Linked DNA regions of Homo sapiens. The protein of the gene in region 1 purifies or fractionates together with the protein of each later gene. This does not show direct contact. Each region holds a gene or a part of one and is shown on either strand. Other genes may lie near its edges. The genes, in order: BTNL3, FNDC3A, ITGA5, ABCA2, SLC25A51, ATF6 and SCARB1.

Evidence for each region.
Region 2: the proteins of BTNL3 (region 1) and FNDC3A purify together in Homo sapiens (affinity purification with mass spectrometry; one large-scale study listed by BioGRID and IntAct). This does not show direct contact.
Region 3: the proteins of BTNL3 (region 1) and ITGA5 purify together in Homo sapiens (affinity purification with mass spectrometry; one large-scale study listed by BioGRID and IntAct). This does not show direct contact.
Region 4: the proteins of BTNL3 (region 1) and ABCA2 purify together in Homo sapiens (affinity purification with mass spectrometry; one large-scale study listed by BioGRID and IntAct). This does not show direct contact.
Region 5: the proteins of BTNL3 (region 1) and SLC25A51 purify together in Homo sapiens (affinity purification with mass spectrometry; one large-scale study listed by BioGRID and IntAct). This does not show direct contact.
Region 6: the proteins of BTNL3 (region 1) and ATF6 purify together in Homo sapiens (affinity purification with mass spectrometry; one large-scale study listed by BioGRID and IntAct). This does not show direct contact.
Region 7: the proteins of BTNL3 (region 1) and SCARB1 purify together in Homo sapiens (affinity purification with mass spectrometry; one large-scale study listed by BioGRID and IntAct). This does not show direct contact.

Annotation. Positions count from the first base shown.
Region 1 is NC_000005.10:180,995,346-180,998,845, forward strand, and holds part of BTNL3 (butyrophilin-like protein 3 precursor), read left to right. Parts: intron 1-1,867; coding exon 1,868-2,143; intron 2,144-3,500.
Region 2 is NC_000013.11:48,978,912-48,982,411, forward strand, and holds part of FNDC3A (fibronectin type-III domain-containing protein 3A), read left to right. Parts: intron 1-3,500. UniProt on the Homo sapiens protein: Mediates spermatid-Sertoli adhesion during spermatogenesis.
Region 3 is NC_000012.12:54,412,767-54,416,266, reverse strand, and holds part of ITGA5 (integrin alpha-5 precursor), read left to right. Parts: intron 1-3,500.
Region 4 is NC_000009.12:137,025,438-137,029,649, reverse strand, and holds the start of ABCA2 (ATP-binding cassette sub-family A member 2), read left to right. Parts: upstream 1-1,412; 5' UTR 1,413-1,509; coding exon 1,510-1,575; intron 1,576-1,738; exon of another isoform or gene 1,739-2,186; intron 2,187-4,212. UniProt on the Homo sapiens protein: Probable lipid transporter that modulates cholesterol sequestration in the late endosome/lysosome by regulating the intracellular sphingolipid metabolism, in turn participates in cholesterol homeostasis.
Region 5 is NC_000009.12:37,887,128-37,890,627, reverse strand, and holds the end of SLC25A51 (mitochondrial nicotinamide adenine dinucleotide transporter SLC25A51), read left to right. Parts: intron 1-2,035; 5' UTR 2,036-2,077; coding exon 2,078-2,971; 3' UTR 2,972-3,024; downstream 3,025-3,500. UniProt on the Homo sapiens protein: Mitochondrial membrane carrier protein that mediates the import of NAD(+) into mitochondria. Mitochondrial NAD(+) is required for glycolysis and mitochondrial respiration.
Region 6 is NC_000001.11:161,961,445-161,964,570, forward strand, and holds the end of ATF6 (cyclic AMP-dependent transcription factor ATF-6 alpha), read left to right. Parts: 3' UTR 1-2,626; downstream 2,627-3,126.
Region 7 is NC_000012.12:124,815,365-124,818,864, reverse strand, and holds part of SCARB1 (scavenger receptor class B member 1), read left to right. Parts: intron 1-1,157; coding exon 1,158-1,315; intron 1,316-3,500. UniProt on the Homo sapiens protein: Receptor for different ligands such as phospholipids, cholesterol ester, lipoproteins, phosphatidylserine and apoptotic cells. Receptor for HDL, mediating selective uptake of cholesteryl ether and HDL-dependent cholesterol efflux.

The DNA.
Region 1 (3,500 bases):
TTTTTAGTTGAAATCTAAATGGTTTAACTATTGTAAGATACTCTAGACCCTATGTAAAGCTTCTGTTTTGCAGGCAGTCACCATGTTTAGATTTATGACTCAGGTCCTAGTCTATTTTTGGTGGTTGTGGCTCCAAATACAATTTAATTTTCAGAGACTTTACTGTGTTATTTTGGTCTACTTTGCTTAACTGATGTCACTGGAGATTCTGCTCATCCTTTCTAGTACTAACTGTGGCAGTAAAAGGTGTTTTCCCATGTTGCTCCTCACTGTTTCTTGTGAGAGAGGTGATCATCTGGCATAGTGGGAAAAAGTACTCTTCCCCTGGTCTCCAGTCAATGGGGCTTATGATCAATTCTTTTGCCAGCACCACTTTGTATATCATGTATTTTCAGCCATTTAGGGGTGGAAAGATTCCCGCTGGGCCACCTACTTCTGCTGGAGGTGGGAGTGGGGGAGTGGTCATAGGATGCTCAGCTGCTGTGTTTTTTTTCTACTCCTGGGGTCCCTAGTCAGTCCTCCTTAGTCTTTCCACTTTTCAAAATGCACCTATGCTTGCCGCATTTCTAGGGTTTATGATTTTACTTAGAGAAAGGAGCAAGGAAGAGAAGTCTACATCATCTTACTTGAGCCCCCTTCCTTGGTGCTTACACCACCATCATTCTTTCATTAATTTATTGACTAACAAACATTTATTAGGCTCCATGCACTGATCCAGACCCTAGGGAATGACAGAGTACAACACTCAGAGAGGAAGTTCTGTTTGGAGTGGTTAAAAGGCAATATTAAATCATAAAATTGAAGTCAACCACATAAGAGGTACTTTTGCATATTTCCCAAGTCACAAATCTGAATGTCACAATAAACCCTTCCTTGATGTTCAGTCCTATTGATTCAACCTCTCAAATAGATTCTGCACCTGCCGTTCCCCTTCTCAGAGCCCTCCTCCTCCCCAGCCCTTCTTTTCTCTCACTGGAGTCACTTCAGTAGTTGCATGGCGGGTCACTCTCCTCCGGAGTGTTCTCTATGGTCCCTCCTCCATGCTGCTGCCTGGAGACCTCTCTAACATACAGGCCTTGCCATAACTCCCACCTGCTGGAAGCTGGTAAGAGCCTTACTGGTCTACAGTTCTTAAAGTGGCTGTGGGCAAGTCCACGTTGCTCAGGTCAGTGAAGGTATGACCTCCACGGCTTGCCTTGTGCCTTTTTCAGATCTTGTCTCACACCCCTACTCTCTTATACATCATCTGGAATATAAATATTCATGAGTCCTTGAAATCACTGTGGCATGTTAACTTTTCACATTGTGGTTTGTACTTGCCTCTTTTTGTCTAAAATGCTTCCCCTCTCCCAGACCTGACCACAACAAAACTCCTATTTTCTGACACAGAAGGGTGCAAATGTCATCTCCAGGAAGCTGTGCCTTTCCCTGACAGTTAAGCACTCTTCTCTGTGCTAACCTGACCATGCTTTCATAGTTGCCATTTCACTATGAAATGTATTTTATACAGTTTCCTCACTATTTGATCAATGAGTTTCTCATTAGAAGGGGCTGTGTCTTATTCACTGCATCCTATTTCATACTTAGGAATATCCAGGCATATATAGTGGCTGCTAAATAAATGTTGAATGAACATAGACCATGGAAGGGCTTGCAGTAGTAGCATGAGTGGATGTGTGTGTAAGAGAGAGAGAGAGAAAAAGATGTGTGTGTAAGAGACAGAGAGAAAAGGATGTGTGTGTGTGAGAGAGAGAGAGAGAGAAAAGGATGTATGTGTGTTATGGGTACAGGCTTGATGAACCAGACTCAAAATGCTGTAAGCTTGAAATTTGGTCTTTGCTTTCATCTTTCCCTGTTTTCTTCCCAGCACTGGGCTCACTTCCTCTCATTTCCATCGTGGGATATGTTGACGGAGGTATCCAGTTACTCTGCCTGTCCTCAGGCTGGTTCCCCCAGCCCACAGCCAAGTGGAAAGGTCCACAAGGACAGGATTTGTCTTCAGACTCCAGAGCAAATGCAGATGGGTACAGCCTGTATGATGTGGAGATCTCCATTATAGTCCAGGAAAATGCTGGGAGCATATTGTGTTCCATCCACCTTGCTGAGCAGAGTCATGAGGTGGAATCCAAGGTATTGATAGGAGGTGAGTGGGGAGAAGGAGGAGCAAGGAATGGGTGTGTGCATACGTAACCCAGGGTAGAGCAGCAGCTTGTGTCTGGGATTGTTGTGTAGTACCATCCAGCTTCAATGATTTGTTTTGAGAGTCAAAGATTGATGAGGTATAAAAAACAAAACCAAACATTTGATAAGGCAGAAGTAGAATAGTTTACAATTTCAAGGCAGTAGAATTAAGTATTTCCTTCACCACACAATACCCCCATGGTGCAACACTCACAACTCAACACGTAACAAAACTTAAGGAAATTAACTCTAGGACTAAGAAAATAATTGTTTCTTCATTTTTAGAAAACGTCGTTGCTCCTTCATGAAGCAGAATAAAACTGTAGAAAATTTCAGAAAGGATTTACAAATAGTAGGAAAATTTACATAAACTAAAATGCTTCCAGAATCACACTCAATTAAAAGGATTGAATTTGCCAGTTAAAAGACAAAGAATCTCAGACTGGATTTAAAAATCTCATCGCTTGAACCCAGGAGGCAGAGGTTGCAGTGAGCCGAGATGGCACCACTGTGCTCCAGCCTGGGTGGCAGAGCAAGACTCCATCTCAAAAATGTAAAAATAAAAATAAAAATAAAAATAGACAAATACTAAAAATCTCAATGGCAATTCATAAGAGGAAAAATGTAGCACATATGAGCTATTCATTGAAAATAAAAAATACTCGAGAAATATTAATCACGAAGAATTGAACAGATATATTAGTGTCAAGAAAAGGAAGACAAAGTTGTAAGAAAAAGGGCATTAGGGATAGAGTTATTTCAAAAACATAAGTTCACTCAGTATAAGAATATGAAAATTTTAAATATATATACATGTACCTTATACATGTAAAACATAGAAAATATCAACAGAAATAAGAAAAAAGGTCATACTTCGAGTTCTAAAATTGATTAAATAAGTAGACAAAATGAGTAAGAATATATACTATTTGAACTAAAAATTAATAAGTCTGAAATAACGTATTTTTGGAGATGGCACTCCAGGTTTGTAGAATATACATTAATTTTTACCACACTTGGAACTTTTATAAAATTTTACCAGATATAAACACATACAATGGTTTTAAGAAAATTTTCAGACATAGATATCATGCACATGAAATTCTCTAATCATAATTTAATAAAGTCAAATGACCACAGCAAAAGATAGTTTAAATTCTTATGTGTTTGAAAAATTTTTAAACATTAAAATAACTGAGAAATTGAAGAAAGCATAGTGATAGGTAGAAAATTCTTAAAACTGAATGATAATAAAATTACAATCTATCATAATGTGTAAAATAGAACTAATATAGTTTTCTGAGTCAAAATTTTATCTG
Region 2 (3,500 bases), on another chromosome or scaffold:
TTTTATAATTTTCTTAATATTTTGGTCTTATTTCAGATAATTATTCAGTGGTCTCTTTTTATATCTTTATTCTTACCTTTCTGTCTTCCCACTGTTGTGGTTTTGCTTGTCTTTAATATATACTTTCAAGTTTTCTGTGTAACCTGTGGTCTTCCATCAAGTTCCTTTGTGGGTGTCATCTTTCAATGTTTCCAATCACTTATCACCCATTACCAGTCCTTGGGCTATTTTTTCCTCCAAGATTGAGAACTACACCTGGGAGATGTCATGTGCTTGCAGGGTGATGCAATGTTATTAAAGTGGGGATACAAACATAGTGTGATGTCTTCCTTCCTTCAAGTAGTTTACAAATTAGTTGGGGGTACTAGACTAATAGTATCATTAGCAAAAATTATAATATGGTATTATTAAGTTGTGTGACACCAACTGGAATTTAAAGGGAAGTGAAGCCAGTGAGAGCTAGAACAATCCTGGAAGGCATTTGGAGGGAGTCAGAGGAAACTTAGAAATGATTTAGATAACAAAAGGAAAGGCATTCCAAAAGAGATTCACAGGCAGAGTTGGAAGTAGTAGTAGAATAAGTAGTCCAAGAGCATCCAAGGACAGAAATTGGGACGAAGAAAGAAAGAAAGTTAGGTCGAGATGTTAGCTTAAGCACCAGGGCATCAGAAGAGGAAAATAGGCAGAGCTGGACAAGACAGTTTGTATCATTAGGAACCTATCACTGAAAGAACTATACCTCAGCTTTGACATATTAATAGCTTAAGCTTTATGTATAATGGATAGCTTATATGTGTTTGTTTGTATGGCTTAGGTCAGGGGTCGGCCAACTTTTTGTGTAGAGTGCTAGATAATTAAATATTTTAGGTTTTGCAGGCCATTTACAGTCTCGGTTGAATGTTCTTGTTTGTTTGTTAGTTTTTTATAATCTTTTAAAAACGTAAAAATTTTTACATTGTTGTCTCAAGAGCCAAACAAAAACAAGCCATCTGTGGACTGGATTTGGCCAGGGGACCTAGTTTGCTGACTGCTAGGTAATAATTGGCAAAGTAATTGTCCATATAGCACATACTGTGAAATTTCTTGCATCATCTTGTCTATATGGTGGTTTGGGCGTTTTATGACTATCATGTATATATTTTTCCTTATGTTATCCTAAAAAAAAAGTATGTAGAAATAAGTGCTTCTGTAATTGTTATTTTGTGGCCAGACTTCTAACAAGAGCCTAGAATAGGTCTCAGAATTAGGAAGTGAAAGACGAAAAGCCTTTGAGTCAGGCCTTACTACAGTGAAAATAGCTACACAGTGGCTTGATTTAGAATTTGTATAAGGTTAGGTGTATCAACTGCCTGTGCTGGTTTTACATTTTTAAAAACAGCTGGCAGGTTAAAAACCTTGTCTAGGATGCTGGTGGTCTGTAAGTGACAACAGAGGAGCAGGCAGTAGGGATCTTTGTTTTTAGAAGTAGTCTAGGATGAGTTAATAAAGGGACAAGCAGTTGGACATTCTGCAGTACTCCAGAAAGAATCACTCTGTTATGGAACAGTCTAATAATTGATATTTACATTGATGAGCTTGAGTCATCAAGAAAAGATTATATCATGTGCACATTAAGGCACGGAAGAAAGACCTAGAGATCTCTTTACAAATAATTAAGATTTTTTTAAGATAAGTTATGGTGATTTAAAGGATATAAGTATCAGCTGTTTTGAAAAGTAATTTACATGAAACATCTCTGAAGTTTCTAAATTTATAGATATCTATTTCTAAGGCAGTTCTGTTTCCTTCAGTATACTGTGGTTCATGTGCCATTACCAGGTGAATAGTGATGCCTCACGCTGTGGCTGCACAAATCAATTGGCTGGGGCAACTGTATTTTTTGTGGCATCAAGAGAGCAAGAATACATCATGAGAGCATTTTTTCATTAAGCAGGCATCAGTACATTCCATATATCAGGGTTAGTATTAGGTGCTGGAAAAAGTACAGATGTATAAGATGGGAAGCAACCTGGACAGAATCAGTGATGCTTCTTTCTTCCTGTTAAAAACATTAAAACCAACCAAACAAAATCATGAAACTTAACTTTTGTACTTTAATTTATTATTAGCATTTTTCATACTTAGTACATACAGTACCGTAATTTTAAGGCAATATAAAGCTTTTGATTTAAATAACAGCCTTCATAAATTGCTACTTAATACAATTTTTACTTTTTAAATTTTAGTTTAAGGAGAAATTCATGCCCTCCCTCTTTTTTTGTGAATGCTTGAAACAGCTTCACCATGCCAGCTGTTTCCATTTGCTAAACAAGAGGTAAATTAAAGTACCTTGGATGGTGACTCAAAAGTCTAGTTCTTAGTTCTAACTTCACCACTTATTACCTATATGATTTTGGGTTAGTTTCTTGCAATCTTGGTTTTCTAAGCATTAAAATAGAGAATAATATCTATCCTGTTTTCCTCAAAGATATTGTGAGAACCCACAGAGATGTTGGAAACTATAAAAGCATTAAAATACATACCATAAAAGTGCTTACATTAATGCTACTATATTGGAAGCAATGCAGCCTTTTTTTTTTTTTAAGACCAGAGTTCAAGCTTTATCCTCCAAAGTTCTGTAAACATAGTATGTTTCCAGTAAACATTCAGTTGAGCTCATTGAATTTTAGAACCTATACTTGCTTATTTTTAAAATCCTATACAAACCTGCCAGATATGTGGTGGTATTCTCATTTTACAGATGAACTATACTTCTGATTGACTTCCATATCTCTTTCTCCTTCACTTCTTGAGATCTCTTATGTGCTAGTTGCTAGAAATACAAAGTGCAATGTATACTTTGAAGTAAGCCTTGGTGTAAAAGTTACCTAAGTTTGGTAAATTAGATTGTGTATGTTAATCAGCCTCTATCAGAAATGCTGGGGGAAAAAAAAGTGTTGTATCTGTTTTCTTTCCTCAGAATCCATATTTTAATATATATTTGAACTTTTAAAAACTTAAATGATTTCGCTTCACTACTTCTTCAGTGAGGGATTACTTTAATTGGTTTATGTATATTCTAAACCGACAGACACATAATTTGGGAGGCAAAAAAATCTTACTTCTCTAGGGGTTCTAAACAGATATTTAAGTACACTTTAAATCACAGTTTAGACTTTTATTAGAAAGTAATTACGTGCTTTGCTTTATAGAAGTATATGCCATATACAGCAACTACTTTTGTTGAGCCATAACTTGAAGGATTAGTCATTTCATTTACTTTAAAATCAGTTTTTCTTAAGATTTGCTTAAATAAAAAGTGAAAATTCATAATTTGCGATTTTATGTTTAAATTTTCTAAATTTTTTTTGTTTTCTTAAGACAGACATTCTCAATTATGTCTTTGTTCTTATGACTTGATTTTTTTCCATGTAATATTTTCATTTGTAATATATACCTAAAAAAAATTTTTAGCATAGTACCTTCATAGTTTATGAAGTACCTTTTTGTTTCTTTAGTAA
Region 3 (3,500 bases), on another chromosome or scaffold:
GAAACCCCATCTCTACTAAAAATAAAAAAATTAGCCGAGCGTGCTGGCACGCACCTGTAATCCCAGCTACTCGGGAAACTGAGGCAGGAGAATCCCTTGAACCTGGGAGGCAGAGATTGCAGTGAGCTGAGATCACATCTGTACTGAGCGACCCCAGACTGGGCGACAGAGTGAGACTCCATCTCAAAAAAACAACAACAAACAAACAAAAAATAAAAACAACTGAGGCTTCAGGAGTCATAGAAATTTTGAACCAGAAGTTAGTTTAGGAAACATTCAAGGGAAATCCATCATTTTATGCCAGAGAATCCAAAGCTTGAAGAGAGGCAGTGACTTGGCCCAGGACACTTGAAAGCTTGAGAGGCAGGCCAGTCTCAGCTCAGCTCCTTGTTCCCTTCTGCAACTGCCACAAGTGGAGACAGCTGTTCTTCCCCAGCCAATCATACATATCCCTTGTGAATGCACTAGGGGACCCCAAACCAGGTGTCCTCCTCTGGCCTGGCCCATGCTGCTGTAGGACCTGTAGGAGCTGGGCGCTGGTCCACTTGCTGCTCTCCACCCCTGACCTTGTCAGGCCAACAGAGTCAAACAGTAACCCAGTATTGAACTGGGACTTGGTTAATCAAAAGCTGGGGAGATAGCAGATATGAGAGGAGGGAATAAGTTGGCAATGGGGTAGACTAGAATGCTGTCGTAGAAATCAGGATTCCTGATTTCTGCTTCATATTCTGGGAGGGATTATGAGTGACCTAAGCCCATTACTTAACTCCTCTGAGATAGTTTTCCCATCTGCAGAATGAGAACATGGGACGAGGTGAGCAGCTTTGAACTTTTTCTTAGGGAGTGTCAGAACGAGGCCAGTCTGCCTTTATGCCATGTGGCCTCAGGCACCTACAGTGAAGTCTTAAAACCAGTGGATGCTCTCTACAGTGCCTTCTAGCTGTGGTAGTCTGTGTCTCCAAGGACCAACCCTTCCATTTCTGAGGCTTCAGAATAAATTCTGGCAGTTATTTCTTCTCTCAGACTCTATTTCAGAAAAGTGTACCTGCCAACCTGCATTTAGTAAGAAATAATGAATTCCTTTTCTCATTCTTTTTATTTTTATTTTTTATTTTTTTGAGACGGAGTTTCGCTCTTGTTGCCCAGTCTGGGATGCAATGGCGCAATCTCGGCTCACCGCAACCCCCACCTCCCTGGTTCAAGCGATTCTCCTGCCTCAGCCTCCTGAGTAGCTGGAATTACAGGCATGTGCCACCACGCCCAGCTAATTTTGTATTTTTAGTAGAGACGGGGTTTCGCCATGTTGGTCAAGCTGGTCTCAAACTCCCGACCTCAGGTGATCTGCCTGTCTCAGCCTCCCAAAGTGCTGGGATTACAAGCGTGAGCCACCACGCCTGGCCGTTGTTGTTGTTGTTGTTGTTGAGAAGGAGTCTCGCTCTGTCTCTGGACTGGAGTGTAGTGGCGTGATCTCGGCTCCCTGCAAGCTCCGCCTCCCAGGTTCATGCCATTCTCCTGCCTCAGCCTCCCTAGTAGGTGGGACTACAAGCGCCCGCCACCACGCCCGGATAATTTTTTTGTATTTTTAGTAGAGACGGAGTTTCACCATGTTAGCCAGGATGGTCTCGATCTCCTGACCTCGTGATCTGCCCGTCTCGGCCTCCCAAAGTGCTGGGATTACAGGCGTGAGCCACCGCACCTGGCGCTTTTCTCATTTTTTATTAACCAAAAACATCTATAGCTGCCAATCAGAGTTTCTGACCAGCATGAGATAACCAGGTTCCCACATAAGTTGATATAATTCCAGCCAAAAGCAAATACACTTGAGGTTTTAATTAGCCTAGGCCACCTTATCTGGTAAATGCATGATTTCCGTTAGGCTTTCTGAAATATTGAAAATAGCACACGGACCCTCCATTGTTACCTTCTTAGACCCCTAAAAGTGCCCAACTGCTGCAGGATTTAGGAAGCAGGAAAAAGATGTGGGAAAATAAGGACAAACTAGCTTGCATGCCATCCATGGCACCAGTCACCTCACTTGGCGTGTTGGCAGGGGAGGCACTATTTATTGGATTGACTTTAGGTTGCTGGGATGGAAGGGCCACTGCCTGTCCAGGAATAAGCCATGGGTAGTGTGCCGGGAGGAAAGGAGGCCTAGGTCTGTGTCCCTTGCCTGCATGCCAGGTATCCTGAACCATCGCACAGCCGGAATGGATATGCCCCTGGCTTGTGGGCTTTACAAGCTTTGTAAACTCTCTGTCTTGCAACCCTGCTAAACTCCAGGCTACTTCCTCAGGCCACCCCAGGAGTGTCAGGCTCAGCTCCTCTCCAAGAGCAGTGGGTGTTGGAGAAATTGGCAGCAGGAATAGGGTCCCTTGGCCTTAGCCCTGTGCTCCAGGAAACTTTGAGAGAACCTCTTCTTCACCCAGAGGAAGAGGGAGAGGGTATTGCCCAAGTCCACAGTTAGTGCCTGAACCAGAACTCTTGGCTCCTGGTCCAGTGCTCCTTTCACTGCTTCCTGTACCTCTGCTGTTCTGGTCTAGTTCAGGTTGGTGGCCCTTTCTGCTTTCTAGAGCCTGAAGGCAGCAACCAAGTTCTCTGGGGGCTGCCCCTGCTGAGAGAGGGGTCTCCTTCTCTCACATCACCCAGCCCTAGGGCGGTGCAGCCAGACCCCACAAGTGGATGTCATGCCTAAGTGAGAAGGGTGGGGCCTGGCACGGAGGTGGGGGTGTGGGAGACAAACGGAGAAGTGAGAGGTTGGAAACAGACAGGAAGCCACAGGCAGTAAACATTTCCTGTCCCCAGAGTAACGGAGACTGGCACCTCCCCTCCCCACCCCTCCTAACTTCAGGAGCTCTCCCTCTTCAGCCTACCCATCTCCTATTCCTCTGGACCCTGCCTTCTCTCCCCTCCATTCTCACCACTGGCCCTCACAGACCCCTCCTCACTCTCCTCTTCCGTCCCCTCGGACCTGTCCTCTCTGCTGCTTCCATCCCCTATACCTCCTGGGCCACTCCTCCCCGCCTCAGTATACCTGGTCTTCTTGGAAAATACCCCCAGCTCTTGTGACCTCTACCATAATCCTTCACTTTGGGCCTTCTTGCCTAGTGAGAAAGCTGAGGAAGGTATTCAAATATCAGGGAAAGGGTAGGTATTGGACGGGTTGAAAGCTGAAAGTGAACAGAAACCAATAGAGATGGAGAAATGTAAAATCTGAGATAGAGAGATAGGATTCAAAAACCAAAACCAAGAGAGCAAGCAGTCATAGGGGCAGAGGGACAGAGGGATTGAGAAGCAGTGCCAGAGGCAGACACAGAGCAGAGCAGAGGCCAAGGCTGGCAGGAGCACTGGTCCAGAGGCTGGGTCGAGTTGCCCAGGCTGCCAGATACAAGTCCTGGCAGGAGACCCTTAGGGGAAACCAAGAGAGCCAAGAGCGGTGTGGAGGTCTTGGAGGCAAGAGACCTAGGGATGAATGAGGCAGAGCTGACGGCAGGAGGACTGCC
Region 4 (4,212 bases), on another chromosome or scaffold:
AGGGAACGGACGTCAGAGGCCTGGCCAGGCTGAAATCGCCCATCTCCCAGGCCCGCAGGCTGGAGGGTGTCTGGGGTGACAGGGTCTGACCTGTGCCTTGTAGCTCCCTCTGGTGGCCAGTGCTGGGGAGGCACTGGGGATGCGGCTGCAGCCAGGGAGCCCCTGTAGTGGACGGTGGAGAGTGGGGCGAGGAGGAGAGAGGCCAACCCACGGGTGGTGCTGACCAGGGCCCCAACAGGCTAAGCCCCCGGGGCTGGGGCACAGGGCTTGTCCCTACCCCAGGTAGGGGTGGGCAGGTTGAGGGCAGGAAGCCCCCCTCACCCATGGCTGTGGCTTGTGGGAAAGACCTGCTGGTAGCTTCCTGCCCTGACCCAGCCCTGTGGACTGAGCAGAGAAAAGCAAGTGCCTTGAGGCTGCGGGCTGGGGTGGGAAGCTGATCCCTCACTCACTAGCCCAGGGTCACCTTCCTGCTGCAAAGGAGCTGGGAGGAGTGGGGAGCTGTGGCCTCGGAGGTCTTCATTCACTTGAGGATGCGCCTTCTATGTGCGCCCTGACACTGGACACCACACAGCGCTACTCCACCCCATTCACAGGGGGGAAACTGAGTCTGGGAAGCGCCGTCAGAGCCACCCATGGGGTCAGCCTGTCCTCTGTCGCTCTCTACAGGCCACGCGGAGGAACTGCCCCACCTCCCGGGGCGCCCCAGCAGGTGCCAAGCCACAGCCGCAGAACCGCCTGATCCCGAACTCCCTGTGCAGAGACCAGACTCGCCCGAATATGGGGAGAAAAACGAGCCGCGTGCAGCAGGGGCCGCCTCGGTCCCCTGCCTGCTCCGCTCACGGCGAGCGTTCCTGGGGCCTCGAGTTTCCCCCCTTCCGCTGGCTGCTCGGAATCGCGGGACGGACCCACCTGGCCGCCCTGCCTCCCTTCCAGGTGGGCACCACCTGGACTCCAAGTGCTGGTTTACAAAGCACACAGGAGACCCTTACGGGGGTGAGCTGGCCCCTCGCCAGCGTCCGCTCGGCGCGCCCCGGGGACAGTGAAGGCTTGGGGCGCCTCTGCAGAGTCGCCAGCGCGGTGGGCGCAGCCGGATGCCTCTGGGAGAAGAGCGCAGCGCCCGAGGGTCCCCCGGCCTACGAAGGCTAAGCCGGGGTCTCGGATTCGATGTGGGCGCGTCGCGTGACGCCCGGCGAGGGGCGGCCCGGAGGCTTCCCGGCGGCGGCGCGCGCAGGGTCTCGGGCCCGGGTCGGTCCCGGGCGCGGCGCGGGCGGCGGGCGCCTCCTGGCGGGCGCGGACGGAGCGCGGCGCCTTTAAGCGGGGGCGGGCGGGGCGCGGGCAGAGTCGCTGTCGCCGCGGCCGCCGGGGCGGAGCCAGCGCGGATCGGGTCCCGGACGCCCGAGCGCCCCGCCCCCGCGCGGGCGATGCCCAGCGGCGCGGCGGGCTGCGGGGCCCGGCGGGGCGCGCAGAGGAGCGGGCCGCGGCGCTGAGGCGGCGGAGCGTGGCCCCGCCATGGGCTTCCTGCACCAGCTGCAGCTGCTGCTCTGGAAGAACGTGACGCTCAAACGCCGGAGCCCGGTGAGCCCACCCCACGCGCCCGCCCTCAGCCCGAGGCCGCGCGCACCGCGGCCAGAGGCGCGCTCCCCGCGCGCACGTGCGGACGGCCGGGCGCGCGCAGACCCCGGCGGGCGCTGGGGGCGGCGCGGGCCCGAGCCCCCTCCCCGCCGGGCCCTGCCCTCGCCTGCCGGCGCTGCGGCCTCCGGGGAGGTGGCTCGGTCGTGTCCAGTCCGGTCCCGCGTCCGCTGACATCGCGGTGCTCGGCTGAGTCACGGCACCCGCGCCCTCTGCAGCGCGCTCGCTGGGGCCGCTGTGGGCGGGGGGCAAGCGGCGCTCAGGACTCTGGCTCGAGGGAGGCCCTGGTTCCCAGGACAGAAGGCAGGCCTGGGGGGCTCCATTCAGCTGCGAGGCTCCATGGTCCTTGGGCCCAGCCTCCCTGGGGTCCCGGAGGAGACCCTGTCCCTTCCCTCCGTCCACCCCTCCCCTGCCCTTGGGCCGCGGCCTGCCATAGAGGTTGGTCCCAGGCATCTCTCCGCCTCCCCTCCTGGCACATCCGTGACCCTTGCTCATGCTCTCGCCACTGGGAATGTCCTTGTGCCAGCCTTGGCCAGCCTGAATCTCTGCACCCATTTGTCCTTTGGGGTCAGTTCTCCCCGAGCCTGATCCACTCTGTTGCCTCCTGGTCCCCCCACCTGCTCTGGGGGCTGGGTCTACTGTTTGGAGCTGTGAACCCCGGCTTTCCCAGCACTGCCTGGGCAGCCAGTGGACCTGAGGGTGCAGGACACATGGCTGTCAGGGACAGAAGTCCTTCGTGGAGCGAGGGGCTTGGGGATATGGGTGTCCTGCCATACCCCCAGCTGGCCAGCTTGGCTCCAGCCTGGGAAGGGAAGGGACACCTCCCAGGCCACAGGCCTGGACCAGCTTAGGTTTCTGAAGGCCCTTGGGATTGTCCAGGCCAGGGCTCAGAGCAGGTGGGGGCCTAAGGCAGACATCCTCTTGCCCAGCCAGGGCCCGGGCGGGACCCCTTGGGCTGCACCAGTCCGTGCCTGTTTATCTTTCAACATGCACTGCAGGAAACCCAGGCTGCAGTCAGCTGGGGTGGCCATCATCACCATGGCTGGCAGAATTCCCCTGGGCACCTGGCCTTGGCGGGGAGCCTGGGTTAGGTACATGCCCTGGCCAGGCACCTGGAGCTGGCTGAGTGGGGTCCCATGGATCAGGCCTGCAGCCCCTGGCATTGAGTCACTGGGGACAGCAGAGCAGGGCCAAGGGAACAGGGATGTGGCATGTGGCATGCATTAGTATTAGTCCCCGGGGGTGGTTGTCAGGAAGGTCCCCACTGGGCTTGGGAGCAGAGGCTGGAATGGTGGCCCCTGTTCCAGTGGGGACAATGCTCAGGGAAGGGAGTGTGGCCTATGAGGGCAGCTGGCAAGCAGGTGGGAGGTGTGCACTGTCCTGACCGCAAGAGTGACTCCCAGCTGCTGGTTTGGGCTGCCCCCCAGGACCTTTTTGGGTCCCCACCCTACAGGGCTCCCAGAGGCCCACTGGGCCACAGTGGAGGTCCTTAGCCCATGGCTGGAGCAGGTGGGGAACTGTTTCCCCCAGGGAGGCTGAGTCCTTGCCAGGCTTGTGATGTGGGGCTGGGGCTGGCTGGACACTGGGCACACTCCTGCTGGGTCCCCACTTTCCTGGGAAGGATCTTGGACATCAGAGCTGGACTCTTGGGGCCAAGCTTGGATGACAGAGGTTTGCCCTGTGTGCCATGCGCCCTGCTGGGGCAGGGGTGCACCCTGGGCAGAGCTCCACCCTGGGCAGAGCTCAGGGTCTGGAGGGTGGGTGCCAAGGACCTCTGTGCTGCTAGCAGGCTCCTCCAAGCTCTTTGCCTCAGTTTCCCTGTCTGTGAGTGTGGCCTATCTCCTCTTAGTTAGCTGGACTTGGGTCTACCCTTGGGCTACAGGCTGCTCTTGGTGCAGGGACAGGGTCACTGTCATGAAGTCACTGGGATGGCAGATGGCAGCGCCACCCTCGGGTCTCACCTGTTCTCCCCCCGACACAGTAGGCGGGAGCTACAGGGAGGGGTCATGCCCAGAGAAGGCATCTAGGCCTCCAGGCGATGTGAAGGCACTGGGCTGGTCTCGAGGGACGGAGGTTGGGCCACCTGGAGGCACCTGTGTGGGGCACCCAGGGCGTGCTAGACCTGTGCTGCCGCCTGTAACCAGATGCTGCTGTGGCGCCCGCCGCCTGCCAGCCAGGACTCTCCTCCTCCTCCCAGTAGCTCGTGCGAGGCCGTTGCTATAGCAATGGGGGAGGCAGCCGGGCCTGTTGCTGCAGTTACAGTGCCCATAGCAGGCCGGGTGTGGGCGGGGCTGGCGCCCCGTGCTGTGACCCCTGCCTCTGACATTGCCTCACTCCTGCAGCCACCCTCGCCCTGGTGCCTGTTGGTGCCCACAGTGCCTTGGCGAACCCTGGGCTCCGTCCTGGCTCAGGGAGCGGGTGGAGGCTGGCACGGGCTGGGGCGGGCATGGGACACCCACAGCATGATGTTCCTGGCCACAAAGCCCTATTGTCCAAGCACAGTAAACACAGCAGCCGCCCCCACCCCAGGGACCGGGGACTCGGCCCGGGCCACACAGCACACTGGGGGCTCTGAAGGGTTTT
Region 5 (3,500 bases), on another chromosome or scaffold:
ACTTCCTGGGCTCAAGAGGTCCTTCTCCCTCCACCTTCCCAGTAGCTGGTGTACGCCATCATGCCCCAAAAATTTATTTTGATTTTTGTAGAGGCAGAGTCTCACTATGTTGCCCAGGCTGGGCACAAATTTGTGGCCTCATGCAATCCTCCCACCTTGGTCTTCCAAAGTGCTGGGATGACAAGTGTGAGCCACTGCGCCTGACTACTATTTTTAATTTTTAAATTATTGTTATTATTTTTAGAAACAAGAGTCTTGCTCTGTTGCCCAGGCTGGAGTGCAGTGGTGCAATCATGGCTCACTGCAGCCTTGACCTCCCTGGCTCAATTGATCCTCCCACCTCAGCATCCCACATAGCTGGGGCTACAGGCATGTGCTACCATGCCCAGCTAATTTTTAACTTTTTCATAGGCATGGGATCTCTCTATGTTGCCCACACTGGTCTCAAACTCGTGATTCAAGCAATCCTCCTGCCCCAGCCTCCCAAAGTGCTGGGATTACAGGCATAAGCCACCATGCCTGGCCAGTATCTTACTGTTAAGGAATTAAAATCCAATTAAAAAATATTTAGCCTCATATACACACACACATACACATATGTGTGTATATATTTATATATATTTCTAATATATAGAAGTTTCTATATATTTCTATTATATCTAAGATACAATATACAGTTATCATGTTATCCCCCAAATAAAGGTGATTTCCAAGACCAGAACTGGAAGGTGGGAATTATTCTGTATGACCCAGCTATTTGGATCTGGATTTTTTCAGGGAGAAGGAATCAGATTTAGATGACTGGCAAGGAAAGATCATGCATTTTACAGAAGGAGGTGTATTATAGGGGTGGAACTTTGGCTTAGTTCCAATCATTTTCAGCAGTATCTAGTATAGCCACCTCTTATCCCAGGGCAGCCTCACAAAGTCATTGCCATCTGTGATATGGTAGCAGGGATATGAGCCCTGGAATCACTCAGACTTCATTTCAGAATGCTGACCCCACCAGTTACTAGCTGTGCCCTGAACAGAACAAAAGAGAATACTGGTTTTATTCATTTGTAAAACTGGAAAAATAATTGTGGAGTTGTTTTGAGAATTCATACATGAAAATAGAGTGCATGGTACATACCTGTAGGCCTTCCTTGCCCCCATCATCCCACACCTCCACCTTCCAAGGTGCATGTTCAGTGTCCCTTACCTGTGTTCCCACAATGGTTGGTTATCATAGAAGCTGTCACATTGGTGTAATTGTTCACCTTGGCACATTCTATTAGTTTGTGAATTCCTTATCTTTGAATCTCTAGCAACTTAGCAGAGGACCTAGTTCATAGTAGGTACCAAAGAAGTATAAATATGAATAGAATGAGTGCATGTCTTGCTGTTTTATTTCTCAGGGGAGGAATGTGGGCCTATTTCAGCAGGACAATAGATAGATACCGTATATAGTGTAGTCAGTAATTACGAACTAGTCTAGTGGCTCTGAAAGTTTTTGGTGTTAGGACTCCTTTACAGTCTTAAAAATGATTGTGGGCCCCAAACACCCTTTGTTTATGTGGACTGATATTCAGGGTCTTTAGGAATTTAAAATTAAAATATGAATTTTAAGGTAATGATAAACACATTACATGTTAACACATTTTCATGAAAAATAACATTCATGCCTCCCATTTTTTTCTAATGATTTTACAGTCATTAGAAAATATTTTACAGTTTTCTAAGCCTTTTGCATGTCTGACTTAAGATGGAGTTTCCTGTTTGCTGCATTCAGTCTGTTGTGATAAGTCATTTTGATTAAAGTATATGCAAAAAATCAAGCCTCACATAGATATGTAGTTTGAAAAAGGAAAATCTCCTGGACTCCCAAAAGGATCTCAGGGACTTCCAGGGGTCTTCTGAAAATGCTTTAAGAATCACTGATCTAGTCTGAAAAGGAAAGTGTGGTGTCCAGATATTAGAGGATGGATTAGGGAGAAAGCCCATGTGTTTAGCTCTCTATAAAACGGGTTTACCCGTTGTCATTTATTATTTGTAGGTTAAAAAAAGTCCTTCATGAAAAAGAAAGATCTTAAGCAGCATGATGGATTCAGAAGCTCATGAAAAGAGGCCACCAATACTAACATCTTCAAAACAAGATATATCACCTCATATTACAAATGTTGGTGAGATGAAGCATTACTTGTGTGGCTGCTGTGCAGCCTTCAACAATGTCGCAATCACATTTCCCATTCAGAAGGTCCTCTTTCGACAACAGCTGTATGGCATCAAAACCCGGGATGCAATACTTCAGTTGAGAAGGGATGGATTTCGAAATTTGTATCGTGGAATCCTTCCCCCATTGATGCAGAAGACAACTACGCTTGCACTTATGTTTGGTCTGTATGAGGATTTATCCTGCCTTCTCCACAAGCATGTCAGTGCTCCAGAGTTTGCAACCAGTGGCGTGGCGGCAGTGCTTGCAGGGACAACAGAAGCAATTTTCACTCCACTGGAAAGAGTTCAGACATTGCTTCAAGACCACAAGCATCATGACAAATTTACCAACACTTACCAGGCTTTCAAGGCACTGAAATGTCATGGAATTGGAGAGTATTATCGAGGCTTGGTGCCCATTCTTTTCCGGAATGGACTCAGCAATGTCTTGTTTTTCGGCCTTCGAGGTCCCATTAAGGAGCATCTGCCTACCGCAACGACTCACAGTGCTCATCTGGTCAATGATTTTATCTGTGGAGGTCTATTGGGTGCCATGTTGGGATTCTTGTTTTTTCCAATTAATGTTGTAAAAACTCGCATACAGTCTCAGATTGGTGGGGAATTTCAGTCTTTCCCCAAGGTTTTCCAAAAAATCTGGCTGGAACGGGACAGAAAACTGATAAATCTTTTCAGAGGTGCCCATCTGAATTACCATCGGTCCCTCATCTCTTGGGGCATAATCAATGCAACTTATGAGTTCTTGTTAAAGGTTATATGAAAAAACCATCAGTTAAGTGCCATTTATCAACTGAATAGACCTTCTAAGAAGAATGCAGTTTGGCCTCTTTTTTTTTTTTTTTTAAAGGAAATCCCAATCTTATTATGGAAAGCCATCAACTGGGTGTGGGGAGTAGGTCAGAGGGTTAGTGAAAGTCCAGGGGATTTCTCCTCCAAGTCCTACCACACAAAGGAAAGTCTCAAGCCTCTATTCACCCCTTCTCAATCCTCACAAAATAGGGGGTTGTTCAATATTGTCTTCAATGATAAAAACTTTGTGGTTAAAAGTTTCTCCTTAGGACTAGTGACAAAGTTAGGCTTATACTTTTTTTTTTTTTTTTGAGGCAGAGTCTTGCTCTGTTGCCCAGGCTGGAGTGCAGTGGCACGATCTTGGCTCACTGCAACCTCCGCCTCCAGGGTTCAAGCAATTCTCCTGCCTTAGCCTCCTAAGTAGCTGGGATTACAGGCGCCCGCCACCACGCCCAGCTAATTGTTTTGTATTTTTAGTAGAGACGGGGTTTCACCATGTT
Region 6 (3,126 bases), on another chromosome or scaffold:
AAGAAGTAGTCACTTTTTAAATTGCTGGCAAAGCTATAATTAATCCCTAGGCACAATTGTAGTTTTTATTTTAATGTTTGTATGCACAAGGCCCTTTAGGAAATGAGAAGTTGCCATGCCAGATTAATTTTTTTTTTTTTTTTTGGTGGGATTGCCTTTTGGGGGTTGCAGCCAGAAATTGTGGGTAATGTGTGTATTTTTTTATTTATTAAATTTTAAACAGGATTGTGCAAGCTTATGAGACAATTAGATAAACTCATGGAGGAGGCAGGTCCTCCTGTTATTAGATGATTTTGTGCTCTTGGGGCTGACAATAATACACTCTTGGGAAGTGATGGTAGAGACTGATGGGAATAGTCTTTCTGCCTGGTTGCAAGTCCCAAATTTTTAAGGGTTAATGGAAGTAAGTGGATGTTTCCTCATGTTAACTACTGAATCAGATGTTAGGAGCTTGTCCCTTTGGGGTTGACTTATGCCCAGCAGTACAGGGACACAGCTTCATTAGAGTGTTAGTGTAAACTAACTCCAAAGTTAGGAGTTAATGTGAAAGGATCATCCTTGAAACAAATCTGCTGTTTGCCATGCTTGTAGTACAGAAACTTCACATGGAGTTTTGGGTGGGATTTGTGTTTTCACAAGTAAAAAATCCCTCACGATTATAAAACTCAGAGCATCATCTAATTTTTTTTTTTAATGACTACAAGTTCCAGCACAAAACTGGCATTTCTTTGCCATTTCTTGCCAGTAAGAAGTTGACACGGAGGTATTTGAAAGCAATGTTATGTGAGTCATTCTTAAGTGTTCCAAGTAAGTTTAGAAACAGAAAAGGAACTTGGGATTCAAATTGATTTTTCAAATCATTTTTAAAGAGACATCATCCTGACTAAATCTTAGCCTGAACCTTCCTCCCCTGTGTGTATTCCCCGGTAGTCACCGCAGCGAGATGCTGGTGAGACTGCCGTGGTGGCATTTAGCATCGTTAAAACTGGAAAACTCTCAAGCTCTTTGCCACTTTCCTACTATTTTTTGATTCTTGCCATTTTACCAAGCTTAGGTTGTGAAACTTGACAGAAATGTATTACAGGAAAAACTTATAATTGTATTTGACTTTCTAACACATTGCAAAGTTTCAAAGTGACTTTCACTTTCAACAACATATTAGAAGTAACCACTTTTGCTTTCACAGCCTGAAGAGTTAGAGCCTGATCTGATGCCCCCTTTCACTCTGAAGTCATGGGAAATTTTCCAGCCATGAAAGCCCTCTTTCCACTGCATACTGATGGGCTGACTCAGCTTCCTTCAGCCGACTGAGATCTTTTCATACTATTGGCTATTTCATACCAATTAACCTCTTAAATAAGATTGTGAATTGCCAAAATTGATAGACACTTATTACCACCTGTGGACTCCATATTCCTTACCACAAATGTTATTTTCATCAGTCCTGAGTCATTTTAACTTACAGAAATTAGGATTGTTGCTGCTAATATGAATACCAATTATAACTTTTAGAAACAAGAATAAAGCCTAAAAGAGAATGAAATATAAGAAATGTTCGTTCCCACCCCTAATAACATTTGGAAGTGAATATTCCCATTTTCTTCCACCCACAGGGATTGGGATTGATTTTTAATTTCCTAGGAAACAATACTAGACTACCCAAAAAGATGTTGCCAGAATCCAAAAGGAACTATGCTCGTAAAAGAAATGCAGTTTTCTCCTACCTAAAAAAAAGAAAGTAAAGTGTGTTCTGTTCTTATCTTTTTAATGACTAAGCTTTAAACAGTTTATTTTGGGTAAGACTAGAACTTTCGGCCATTTGTTCTAATATGTGTGTTATTAGATGCAATAGAATTTATGAAAAGAAGAATGACAAAGGTATCTGATTAGAAAATTTGATCTTACGCATGAATCCATGTCATGGCCAGCCACTGTCACATAGTGGGTGCCATTCTCAACATATTGGTTTGCTAACTTTAAGCATTAGGGATTTAGCACACTAAAATACTTTTAATTATATTAGGTTTGGTAACTAAGGAGTAAATAAATCATAATTTATCATTTGCCAAGGCCAACAAACAACACTATTGTGCTGTTTGCTCTCAATGAAGTTGAATAAACCAGGAGGCTTGGCATATCCCCTTTATGTTAATCCCAGCTAGAGATTAGTAGGTTGACTTTCACAGCAATTGTATATTGATCCATTTTAACTCATCCTTGCCATAATTTCCAGGCCAGTCACCAGGACAGAGGAGATGATGGGGAAACAGAGCTTTAGATGAAAACTACTATGCACTACTAGCCTTAGAGGCACTGGTTTCCTGTTACCACTTTGGCAAGTATGGATGGTCTAAGTCCAGTAGGGCTTCATCCATGGAGCCATTAGAACTGAGGGGGGAGTGTTAGAGATGCCATTTCACCAGGATCTTTTTGCTCAGGTTGTACCCATGCCAATTGAAGAACGTGTTAAAGATGAGGAGGAGAGATGTACCATTCTCTCCCTTAATAATGATGTTGGTTTGCAAAACCTAAAGAAATAATAACAACAGACTATTTCATACTTTCAAGCAAGTCTTTATACTACCTGTTATTTCTCTAAAATTCAAATAAAGAATTTTTAAACTTACCTTGTTTATTCTGTATGTAGAAAGAGAGAAAAAAGCCCCCAAATGAATCTTCAGTGTTGGGGGGTTAGTAATGGGAAAGGAAGCCTGAAAAGGCTTTGTGGCTTGTGTTACTGTTCAGATGAAACTGTTGAACTATTTTCCACTCTTCTCCCAAGCCTAATTAAGTAAAAATTTCCTTTATTTAAGTGTCCAGATATTTAAACTACAATCTTATCAAGGAAAAAAAAATCTAAAAACCCATATTTTATCTATGTCTTCAGGAAAGTGGGTTACTCGGTCACGCATCTTGTCCTCACCAAAGGCCTCTTCCCAGCTTGCAATGGCAAATGCCACCACACCTGAAGCTAGTCACTGCAGACTGACAGCAAGGGATCCATCCAGGAGTAATTAATGCAGGCATTTACTGAGCACCCAATGATTACCTCTGACACTGGTTTATTAACTATATTATCTTATTTCAATCGTCTCTACATCCTATTTTGTAAGATGGTTATTAATA
Region 7 (3,500 bases), on another chromosome or scaffold:
ACGTGGTGAAACCCCACTTCTACTAAAACAAAAACAAAAACTAAAACAAAAATTAACCAGGTATGGTGGTGGGTGCCTGTAGTCCCAGCTACTCGGGAGGCTGAGGGAGGAGAACTGCTTGAACCCGGAATATGGAGGTTTCGGTGAGCCGAGATCGCGCCACTGCAGTCCAACCTGGGCCACAGAGCAAGACTCCCTCTCAAAAAAATAAAATAAAATAAAAATACAAAAATTAGCCAGGCGTGATGGTGGGGGCCTGTAGTCCCAGCTACTCAGGAGGCTAAGGCAGGAGAATCGCTTGAACACAGAAGCAGAGGTTGCAGTTAGCCAAGATCATGCCACTGCACTCCAGCCTGGGCAACAGAGTGAGACTCCATCTCAAAAAATAAATAAATAAATAAAATTATTCTTTATAGAGACAGGGTCTTGCTATGTTGCCCAGGCTGGTCTCAAACTCTTGGGCTCTGGTGATCCTCCTACCTCGGCCTCCCAAAGTTCTGGGATTACAGGCATGAGCCATGGTGCCTGGCCTATATTTCACTTACGTGATGACTGTCTCAAATCCCAGTCTCTCCCCAATCCCTGCTGTGTTTTCTCTGTGCTCTGTCACGTGGCATGCGTTTTACCTGAGTTGTTTGGTGCCTGCCTTTCCTCCGCTATGGTAAAGCCCCACATAGCTGGGCTTTTGGTCTGTCCTGGTCATTCTCCCATCCCCAGCTCTTAGAACCCGCCTGGCAGGTGGTAGTGCTCAGTGCTTGCTTGTGGAATGAATGAATGATCCCCCTGGCCACACGGAGCCCATGTTCCTGCATGAGGCTATCCCTGCCCTGAGCCCATCCGCTACCCTGAGCTCCGGCGCTCCCTTTAGGTGGTGCATGGGCCCCTGTTTACCACAGTCCCTTGACTGGTGTCACCTGTTGCTGTTAGGACATATTTTAAGATGCATTATGACAGCATGGATAGGTTGCCTGTTTAATTCCATAAGCTCCAGGTGCGACAGCCTCATGTGCGAAGGGCTTTCCCACCACCTCCTATCCCAAGCTCCCGCCGAGGAGCCCCTTCCCTGGCCGGGCTCGGGCAGCTGTTCCGGAGCCTTGTGGTGGGGCGTGGGGCCCTCATCACTCTCCTCACAAGCGTACTTGTCCCTTCCCCTGCAGAACGTGCGCATCGACCCCAGTAGCCTGTCCTTCAACATGTGGAAGGAGATCCCTATCCCCTTCTATCTCTCCGTCTACTTCTTTGACGTCATGAACCCCAGCGAGATCCTGAAGGGCGAGAAGCCGCAGGTGCGGGAGCGCGGGCCCTACGTGTACAGGTGAGGCTGTGTCCAGGTGAGGGTGGAGGGGCCGGCTGAGGCTGGGCAGGGGAGGGGTCTCAGAGTGGACGGGATGGGGAGGCTGCTGACTGAGCCCCAGAGATTGTTCCGGAAGCAGGCAAGTCATAGTCGGGGTAAGTGCTAGTCCCAGAGAAGTTTTTGTTTTAGGGTTTTTTTTTTTTTTTTTTTTTTTTTTAGAGATGGGATCTTGCTATGTTGCCCAGGCTGGTTTTGAAGTCCTGGGCTCAAGCGATCCTCCGCCTCAGCCTCTCAAAGTGCTGGGATTACAGGTGCGAATCACCAGACGTTGCCTAGAGAGGTTCTTTATGGAGCAGGGAGGGACCAATGGTGTGCGTCTGGGTGGAGGGTGCATGTGTGAGTTACACACATACATACACACACATACACATACACATACACACATACATACATACACACGTACATACACATACACACACACATACATACACACACATGTACCTACACATGCATACACACATACACACACACACACACACACACACACACATGCATGACCAGGAGCAGGGACCGACCCCCCAGACCCTATCTGGGCCAGAGGACCGGGTGGGTCAGCACGGGAAGGGGTCAGCTGTTTGTGGAACATGCTGGCCCAAGGACCACAGAGTTGTGCCTTTGCTTTCTGCTTGTCCTGTACCTGGCTGTGGCCTAGGGGAAGTGACTTCATTCCTCTGAGCCTCAGTTTGCCCGTCTGCAGACTGGAGAGACACAAGAGCCCCTTCATGGGGTCACCGGGACACTCAGGATGCACTCGGAGCTCTGAGACGGCTGGCGGATGTGCCTGTTACAACTCCCTTACCTCCTGGCGTTTTCACAGCACCTCCCCTCCTCCACACCCCCACTTCCCAGTTCACAGACAGGGGAGCTGACTTGCCCCCGGCACACGGTGTTCCAGGGATGGGGCGGGCAGAGGGTGTTCCCGCTGTTGGAGACCCACAGTCTGGTTCTGGGAAAGCCAAGATGAAAACCCAGCAAATGTGCCTGAGGTTTGGGAATGGGAAACATGAATCAGCTGCTGCATTCCGTTCACTCATTCACTCATTCGCTCGTTCATTTAACAAATGTTTACTGAGCACCTGCTAGGTGTTGGCTGCCGTTCTAAGTACAGGGGACCCAGCAGTGGACAGAATGGGCAAAAATGCCAAAGCTCTCTATACTCCTTCATTCTGTGAGCACTGACTGAGCACCTCCTGTGTGCTGGGGGCGCAGGCAGACCAAGGCCCTGCCTCACCAAGCTGATGTTCTGATGGGGAGAGAGTAAAGAAGTGGACAAATAAGGGGAAATCAGGCAGCCATCAGTATTGTGCAGACAAAACAGTGTGAAGCCGGAGTGCAGGAGGGAGGGTGGCCTTGGGGCTCGGTCTGACTGGAGGGTCGGGAGCACATCTGCAAAGGGACACTCACTGGACCCGCATGGTGGGAAGAGGCCCTGGGGAGACAGAGTCCCGGGCAGAGCATGTGCAAAGGTCTGAAGGCTGGGACAGAGGCCTGTGCGGCTGGGGTTACGAGGGAGGGAGACAGTGGAGAGACGAGGCCTGAGCCTTGCTGAGGGCCTCAGAGGTCACGTTAGGAGCCTGATTTTAACCTGCATGCAAAGTGGGGTTGTGGTCCAGAGCATGGCACGATCTGATTTCTACTTTTTTTTTTGAGACGGAGTCTCTCTTTCACCCAGGTTGGAGTGCGGTGGCGCGATCTCGGCTCACTGCAACGTCCGCCCCCCAGGTTCAAGCGATTCTCCTGCCTCAGCCTCCCGAGTAGCTGGGATTACAGGCATCTGCCACCATGCCCAGCTAATTTTTGTATTTTTAGTAGAGACGTGGTTTCGCCATGTTGGGCAGGATGGTCTTGAACTCCTGACATCAGGTGATCTGCCCACCTCAGCCTCCCAAAGTGCTGGGTTTACAGGCATGAGCCACTGCTCCCGACCTGATTTCCACTTTTCAAAGATTCTTCTGGATGGTGGAGAGTGGCTTGGAGAGATGAGAGATCATAAGGACAGCAGCAGCAACAGTCACAGCAGCTGATGTTTACCTCGTGCTTTCTCTGCACCCGGCGGCTGTGTTGATTGCTTTCTGGGTATCTGATTGCTTAATCCCCACAGCTGCCCTGTGAAGTAGGGCTTGTGATTACTTCCTTTTGTAGATGG